Linked DNA regions of Homo sapiens: region 2 is linked to region 1. Evidence: fine-mapped expression QTL. Tissue or cell type: lymphoblastoid cells. Region 1 holds a variant in brackets; the other region holds the start of a gene. All regions are shown on one strand. Distances are from middle to middle.

Region 1 (4,240 bases):
GAGCAAGACCCTATCTCAACAATAACAACAAAAAGAGCCACCAGTGGTTGTAGAGAAATGCTAATGATTTTTTAAGGGGAAATTCTTAAGTGCAACGAATCCATTATCAAGTGCTTACTTATTTCTAGCACCTATAGTTTAAACAATTTTACAATTTTTTTTTTTTTTTTTTTTTGAGAGAGAGTCTCGCTCTGTCACCCAGGCTGGAGTGCAATGGAGCGATCTTGGCTCACTGCAAGCTCCCGGGTTCATGCCGTTCTCCTGCCTCAGCGTCCCGAGTAGCTGGGACTACAGGCATCTGCCACCACGACTGGCTAATCTTTTGTATTTTTAGTAGAGACAGGGTTTCACCGTGTTAGCCAGGATGGTCTTGATCTCCTGACCTCGTGATCCACCCTCCTCGGCCTCCCAAAGTGCTGGGATTACAGGCGTGAGCCACTGCGCCCGGCCCCATTTTACTATTAAAATTATTCATGACCATGCATTTTAGAGGGCTCACTTAACAAACTTACTGTTGAAATTGCAGAAGTGGAAAGGTGGGAAAGCAGCACTGAGGAGGAACAGCACATGGAACTGGAAGCAACCATGCAACTTTCTTTAAGCTAATCTGAAAGGGCAGTGCCCAGCTACAAAGTTGGGCATTGTGTTGGGAATTAACTTGTCTTTCTGTACTGAGTTAAGTAAGGAGAAGGGTTGCTGTGCTCTTCCATGTAGAGAGTTTGGTGGTGGGGGAGGATCTGAGTCTTCTAACAACAGCAACACAAGCTCTGACCAGTTCCTAAAGTGGAAGGTGCCCTCAGCCCGGTGGCCAGCATGGGAGGCAGCTGGAATGATGGGGATGCTGTGCTCATCAAACCCTCTGTCATTTGGTGAGTTCAAACCTGACTTCCTACTGCTTCAAGAGCATAAATCAGAAGAGGATTTATAAGGACTTGACATCTAGCTTAGAAGAACAAAGTAGTATAATGAGACCAAAATACAACCATTCAGAGGCTTTTCCTTCTTCCTTCTCACACTGTCACTTTGGCAAAAGAGGCCTCAGTTGTCATGCTTGGTTCGCTATCCTGGGAAAATTCCTTAGAATGTCACTTTCTTATGGCTGCTGCATTCTTAGTATTTTATTCCAAAGTCACCCACATTCTCCAGATTTAGAGGCTTTGGGGCCCAAAAGTGAAAAGGGGCATCTAGTAAACGAACAACATAACATTACTTGCATTTTTTACATTTTCAGGACTTGGTATGTTTTAATTTACATAATGCCTTATACATAGCACTTGAAGCTTGTTTTGCAGAGTAGAATAAAAGATATATAGAACTTTTAACATTTTAATCATTCCCAGTCATGAAGCATCCGATTCAAACATAATCACTAACTCTGAAGACAAGGATTATCCATGGCTGTGTAACAAATTACCCCCAAAACTCTCCGGCTTAAAACACCCATAAACATTTATCACCTCTCAAAGTTTTCTGTGGGGCAAGGATTTATGAGCAGCTTCCCTGGGTGGTTCTGGCTCAGGCTCTCTCATGAGGCTACAGTCAAAAAGTCAGGACTGCCGGGGCCTGATGACTTGAATGGCTAGGGAATCCACTTGCACATTGGCGAGCTCACACAGCCGGCACAATGCTGCTGGTTGCTGGTGTGAGGCCTCAGTTCCTCATCAAGCGTGCATCTCCCCAAGGCTGCTTGAGAGTCTTCATGACATGGTGGCTGCCTTCCCACAGAGTGTCATCCTGGCAGAGACAGAGCCAGGTGGAAGCTGCATCCTTTTGATGGCCTAGTCTCAGAAGTCACATGGCCTCACTTCCACCACCTTTATTCACTAGCTGTGAGTCGCTAAGTTCAGCCCATATTCAAGGGGAGGGAGTTACAGTCCACGTTTTGAAAGGAGGAGCATCAAATAATTTGCAAACATGTTTTGAAACCATCAGTGGTTATATTTTCAGGCCAATGATTTTAAACCATTATAACTTATTTTGAAGTACACTTATACCAAGTAAAATTCACAAATCTTAAGTGTAAAGCTTAGTGACTTTTCACATGAGTAAATGCCTGTGTAACCATCACCTAGGTCAATATATGGAATGTTTGAAACACCTCAGAAAGTTCCACCATGCGAGTCTCTGAATTTGAATGTTTTGTGTACACCGTTATCACCTGCAAATAAAGACAGCTTTAATTCTTCCTTTCTAGACTTTGTAACTTTCATTTATTGTTCTTGACTTACTGTACTATCAAGGTTGAATAGAGCTGGTATGAGTGGGTATCCCTGTCTTGTTCTCAACTTAGGGGGAAATGTGTTCACTATTTCATTGTATTTATCTGTAGAGTTTTTAATAGATAACTTTTATCGGATTGAGAAAGCTTTCTTCTGCTCCTAGTTTGATTGAGCTTTGGATATAGAAAAGTAAATAGAATCACGACTCATGATTTTGCTACTTGGTCATAGCTTTAAGCATTTGCTAGAGTACTGTCTTTAGCTGTGAAGGTTCTTTATCTAATTTACAAAAAAAA[G/AG]CAAATTGTGCTAGGCCTACACATGGAAAAATATTGTCCAGGCAGTCTTCAATCTCCAAATATGTTGATCTTCAAATGTGTATGTTTGTCAGTTCCTTGGGAATTGTGAGACTTTTTCACATGAAACCTTAGTTGTGCTCGCTGCTTCAGTATTTAGGTCAATTCCAAAAGTCTATTTAATTACCTTATGCCCGAAGCATGGCTCTGTGCTATGGTGGCGGAGAGTGGGAGAGGGGTTTTGAAGAGAAATGGAAGGGAGAAGAGAGAGGAAGCCTAGGCACCAGCAGCACCAAATACAGCAGCGTACAGAGAGTACAGTTCTCACAGCCAAAGACGCACGGAGCCACCCCAAAGCCGGGTGTGGCTGACATTTGTGAATTGGCATTCTGTAACTCAGGGCTCTATAAACCTTGCCACATGTGGTGAGAATTTTTAAATATCTCAACAGCCAATTCACATGGCTTCAAAAGCAATAAATTTTAAAACAAGAACTTTTGAATGGCACTGACAAAGTGTCCTCAGATTCATTATCACATTTACTCTTCAGCGCAGCCCTGTGAGGTTCACATCCAGGCCTCACGGAGGAGGACACTGAGGCCGGGAGACTTTCCAGGTCTTGCCGGGGATGGCACAGCTTGGCTTTGGTGCCCAGGACTGAGCCATGACTTAGGGCATGCGCTCTTTTCATTGTATTGTGTTCGCAACGATTGCCTAACAACTTTTTGTACGGTTTTTAAAAATTACTGCAGCAGATATGTCTGTGCTGAATGTAACTTAAGATGTTAGTTTGCTTCACGTAAACTGAAGCGGCTCATTTTCGGTCCCCAGCTTTTCGTCACGGTGCGTTTAGCCATTTGGCTGAACAAATAGAGGGACTGTTTCTTCCTCCTCCTTCTCTCAGCACATTCACCTTTTCAGCACAGAATTTTATGAATTCTGCTCCAGTTGTCCAGGTGTAAGAGAGGGAGAAATCTGGAGAAGGAATACTAATTCTATAACTTGGCAGAGACTATCTGCCATAAGCCTAATAGTCAATGAAAACCACTGAGCGTACACATTTCATTTACATTTCCCATCGCCAAGTGCAAGGCCCTGCCTTGGGAACTTTTAGGGCCATAACTGTGGAGTTTCAGAGAGCAAGTCTCAATTTACTAGTTAGTCCTTAATGTAGATGTTTGGACCACTCTTGTTTTTAAAGTGGTAAAACACACACCAGAACACTGTCGAGCATACACGTTTTGGATGTCAGATTGATTTTCAGGGAGGCAGTGGTCTGCAAAGCTGGCAGAGGAGTGGCCCGGCGCGGTGGCTCACACCTGCAATCCCAGCACTTTGGGAGGCTGTGGTGGGTGGATCACTTGAGGTCAGGAGATGGAGACTATCCTGGCTAACACGGTGAAACCCGGTCTCTATTAAAAATACAAAAAATTAGCCGGGCGTGGTGGCAGACGCCTGTAGTCCCAGCAACTCGGGAGGCTGAAGCAGGAGAACGGCGTGAACCCGGGAGGCGGAGCTTGCAGTGAGCCAAGATTGCGCCACTGCACTCCAGCCTGGGCGACAGAGCGAGGCTCCATCTCAAAAAAAAGAAAAAAAGAAAAAAAGAAAAAAAAAAAAAGCTGGCAGAGGAGCTCCTTTGGATAGAGGACACTTCAACTTTGATGGGGGCGGGGTTCCCCGGCTCTCTCTGGAGTGAAAACCCCGTGCACCACAGGGCACTTCCGTGAG
Region 2 (4,240 bases), 54 kb after region 1:
AAATAAATAAACAAATAAATAAATAAAATAAAAAATACCCATCACCTCAATTTTATTTTTTGTGGTTAGATATTTGAAATTTACTTTTTGTTATTTAAATATACAGTACATTATTATTGACTATAGTCATCCTGCTGTGCAATAGATTTCAAAACGCATTTCTCCGGTTTAACTGAATCTTTGCATCTGTGAACAACTTCCCATTTTTCTCCCCAGCAACACAGCCTCTGGTAAGCATCATTATACTCTCTACTTTTATGAATTCAATTTTTAGACCTAAATTTAAATCCAAAAGCTGTAAAACTTCTGTAAAATAACAAAAGGGATATTTAGGTAACTTTGGGTTTGGCAATTACTTTGTAGATACAACAGTAAAGTACATAAAAGACAAATTTCTACCATGAAAGAAGATATTGGTATGAAGTCGTTACAATTAAAAACTTTTGCTCTGGGAAAGGAAATAAGAGAATGGAGAAACAAGCCACAGACGGAGAAAATATTTGCAAAACACCTGTCTGGCATCCAGACCATTAAAAACCACTTACAACTCAACAATAAGAAATCGAACAACCCAATTAGTAAATGGACGAAAGATCTAAAGAGGCTCCCATCAGAGATGGCATATAGAAGGGGAAAAGCTTATGAAAAGATGTTTGCCCTCCCAACGCTTTTCCCTCCCTGCGTCCCTCTCCCTCACACACCCTCCGCTGCAGCGGAGTGGGAGCGGGTCAGGGGCGCTAGGCGGTGACGGTGACGGTGACGTGCTGTCTCTCGGGCGAGGCGTGGGATTTAAGCGCATTATAAGCCGTGGGTCCCGGGGAATCCGAGAGGCTGAGCTTGGAGCCCAGACTGACCCGCCTCTCTCATGGTCCCGGCCCACTGCCCTGCAGAGCCCGCCTTACTCTTCCTCTCCACAGGTCTGCTGTGGCTCCACCAAGCCTGGTAGGCCCACAAGGAGCTGCATCCAGCAGGAGCCGCCGCCCGGGAACAAGCTACCCGCGGGCTCTGGGGACAACCGCCCGTCTGATGAGCTCGGCTGAGCGTGCACGCAATGTCGAAATCAAGGACGCCTGGATGCTTTTCATGGCAGAGTGACAAAAGTTTACCAACAAGAAGAGGAGCAGGGCTGCTGAAAGGTGCGGTGCCGCGGCGCCAGAATGCGGGATCCTGAGCCCTGCATGCGAGTCTTCGCGGGGCCGATCGCTGCGAGCCTCGCTTAGGTCCAGCCGCCTCCAGGGAGGGCAATATCCACGAGACGCGGGGAGTGAGGGCGGTGCTGGCCGCACCCCTGGTCCTGGGGCCGCGGGAGCCGTGCTAGCAGGCCGCCTTCCACTGCCGCCTGCGCCGGGTCGGGTTGCTGCAGCGGTGCCCGCTGCAGGAGCTCCGCGCCTGCTGCTTCTCCGACGTCAGGGCGCCGCCAGGATGACAGGTGCAGGAGGCTGCGGCTGTGGGCAGATGTGGTTTCCAGCCCCAGGTCCCGGCGGCCCCTGGCTTCCCAGCCCGCTGTCCTGTGGGCAAGAAGATGAAGAAAGTCACCCCATCAGCAGGTCAGCTGCCCCGCCTGGCAGCCCAGCCAGACAAGGCAACCGAAGTTCATCCTGTCTGAGTTGACTTTGTGCAGGCAGCGGGCCGGCGCCCAGGATGCTGGGGAGCCCTGCGCGCCGGAGGCCGACAAGCCGTGGGGCCCAGAGGCGCCACAGGGCGAGAAGGCACCCGCCTCCCAGCGCTTTCACCCCCCGGCCCGCCCGACCCGCTAGGTGTAGCAGTGGCTGCGGCCAAGCCAGGCATTCTGCCCGGCGGCGGCTGCACAGGGGCGAAAACTGAGAACCCCTGCTCAACCCCATCCGGAGTGACTGCCAAGTGCCCATGCCAGCGACCCCGATCCCCCTCCGGTGGAGGAATGGGCGGGAGGCACGGCCTGGGGGCCCTCAGGCTGGGCGCGCTGGCGATCCCGAGGCCGACCAGGCCATGCACCTCCAGCCCGCCTGGGCACCCAAGCTGCATCCGCCTTCTGTGTGCAGGCAGCAGCCTCCAGGCAACCCCCGAGCCCGCCAGCACTCCCCACATCTCAGAACCGGGGCCAGATGTCCCTGTGGCTGCGGCTGAGCTAGGTGGTCTGCCCTGCAGCGGGAACCGGCTCTCAGCCCCATTCCCCGTGGCTGCAGAGGGCCACTGGCTAGAGGTCCCGAGCTTCAGCAGACGAGGAGCCGAGCAGGGGCAGGGCCTGGCGGGCTCTCAGGCCAGGTGCACTCGCGATCCAGAGGCCGCCTAGGCCGTGCTCCACCACCTGGGCGCCCAAGCTGCAGGCGCCCTCTACCTGCTGGCGACAGCTGCCTGGCAACTCCCAAGATGGCTGGCGCTCCCAGCCTGGCAGAACCGGGGCTACATGTCGCCCTGGCTGCGGCCAAGCCAGGCGGTCTACCCGGCGGCGGCTGCACCGGGACAGGAACCGACCCCCCAGTCCCATCCCCGGTGGCTGCGGAGGGCCCCTGTCAGCGGCCCCGATCTCTCTTCGGAGGAGGAGCGGGTCGGGAGTCAGGGCCAGGCAGGCCCTCAGGCGGGAAGGGATGCACTCCTGGGATTCCGGGACGTCCCGCGGGAGCCCAGGAGAACCCGCAAGCCAGCGACGCGTGCGCCCGTGCTGCAGGTGCCCCCTGCCGGCCACGAGGGCTTGGGAGCGGCTTCCGGAGTCCCGGCTGGCGCTGAGTTGTAGGCGCGCGCCTAACTGGCATCGCGGGGACTCACTCGGTCTGAGAGTTCGGAGCGCTGAGGTTCAGGCGCGCGCCTAACGGCTTAGCTGGGCTCACTCGGTCTGAGAGGTCGGAGTCTGCGAGTGTCGCTGCTGAAGGCTGTGGTGGACCGGGCTGGATCGCGGATTCTGAGCTACATTGCGGGTTTGGGGGTGGATCTTGGATTTGGGGGTGGATCGCGGGTTGCGGGGGGGATCGCGGGTTGCGGGGGAGATCGCGGATTTGGGGCGGAGTGGGGGTGGAAAGGCCACGAGGAGCCGCCGCGGCTCAGGAGCGGGTGGTGGGCGTCTGAGAAGTCGCCACCATGAGGAAGCTCTTCAGCTTCGGGAGACGCCTGGGCCAGGCGCTCCTGAGCTCCATGGACCAAGAGTATGCGGGTCCGGGTTACGACATTCGGGACTGGGAACTGCGGAAGATCCACAGGGCTGCCATCAAGGGCGACGCCGCGGAGGTGGAGCGCTGCCTGACGCGCAGGTTCCGGGACTTGGACGCCCGCGACAGAAAAGACAGGTAGCTCGGGGACTCAGCCCGCGGTGGGAGGGGGCCGCAGGCCCGGCTTCCCTGCAGCCCGGCAGCCCCTGGGGCGGGGACCTTGGAGGGCGCCGGGCACCCTCGGAGCAGCGGAGCCAAATGGAGCCTCAGCTGCTTTCCGTCGCTGGCAATTCCCCGTCCGTCGCGCTTGGTGGAAAATTTGAGTGATTTAACTCACAAAGTTAGGCATATCCACGTTTAAAACATGGGGCCATATACATGATAGGGAGGTGCCTAATGAGAACTCATTCCCCTGTCAAAAATACCATGAGCCTTTTTCAGTAGGCGAAGAGTTCTCAGATAAAACCCTGTGTCGGTTTTACATCCGAATCCACCTAGGTAGACAGGTTCTTTACTGGAGCTTCTTAGAGGGACACTGGGAAGCGCGAGGTGGGTTCCTTGAATGGGAAGACTCAGTTTTCTCAAAATATGAACTGTTTCCATGTTTATCAGTTTTACATAAACTGAATGAAGATATCAAGGTTTTATCATTTTTGCATGACACTTGCTATCTATCTTACCATTGTGATGACATTTAAAAATGTTTATAATGGAGTGAAAAGACTTGCTCCTCTAGATATCAAAATGTGCTATTAATTCCCACAATTAATTATTTACTAACAGCTGAAAACACAGATAAATAAATGGAACAGAACAGGAAATCCAAAAACACTGAAATATATGTAAGATATATACATAGGGATGGATAATGGTAACGTTTCAGATGAGTAGGAAAAGATGAGTTATTAATAAAATGCCTGCTGTGTGAAGAAAACTAATGAAACTTTATGTCGCAAAAATGGGTTCCTGATGGAATTCAGACTGAAATTTTTACACATGCAAAATGAGAAAAAGTACCAGAAGAAAACGCAAAGACTTATTTATACAGGTACATTTTATGTTAACAAAGGCCTTCGTAAGAATGACCTCGCAAGCAGGCATTCTGAAAGTTGATTTAG

Alleles and levels. Alleles are on the strand shown, and positions count from the first base shown. SD is a standard deviation of normalised expression in the study named.
As copies of G replace AG in region 1, the expression in lymphoblastoid cells of the gene that starts at base 2,252 in region 2 goes up (small effect, 0.40 SD a copy in TwinsUK).

The links. PIP is the estimated chance that this variant, and not a neighbour inherited with it, causes the effect.
Region 2: it holds the start of FAM201A, and the variant in region 1 is fine-mapped to the expression of FAM201A in lymphoblastoid cells (TwinsUK, PIP 0.95).

What each region holds. Positions count from the first base shown.
Region 1 is chr9:38,672,683-38,676,922 of GRCh38, reverse strand. No RefSeq gene overlaps it. Among named protein-coding and RNA genes, the nearest start is that of FAM240B, 45 kb to the left of the region's middle. RefSeq lists an enhancer at 4,012-4,240. The variant G/AG (reference allele first, on the strand shown) is at 2,516.
Region 2 is chr9:38,619,100-38,623,339 of GRCh38, reverse strand. FAM201A (family with sequence similarity 201 member A) reads right to left here and starts at 2,252. Exons shown (of 2, transcript NR_027294.1): 1 at 1,975-2,252; 2 at 56-1,508. It overlaps ANKRD18A (ankyrin repeat domain 18A), which reads left to right and starts at 2,744. Exons shown (of 16, transcript NM_147195.4): 1 at 2,744-3,260. The coding sequence starts at 3,055. RefSeq lists enhancers at 1,117-1,326, 1,979-2,098.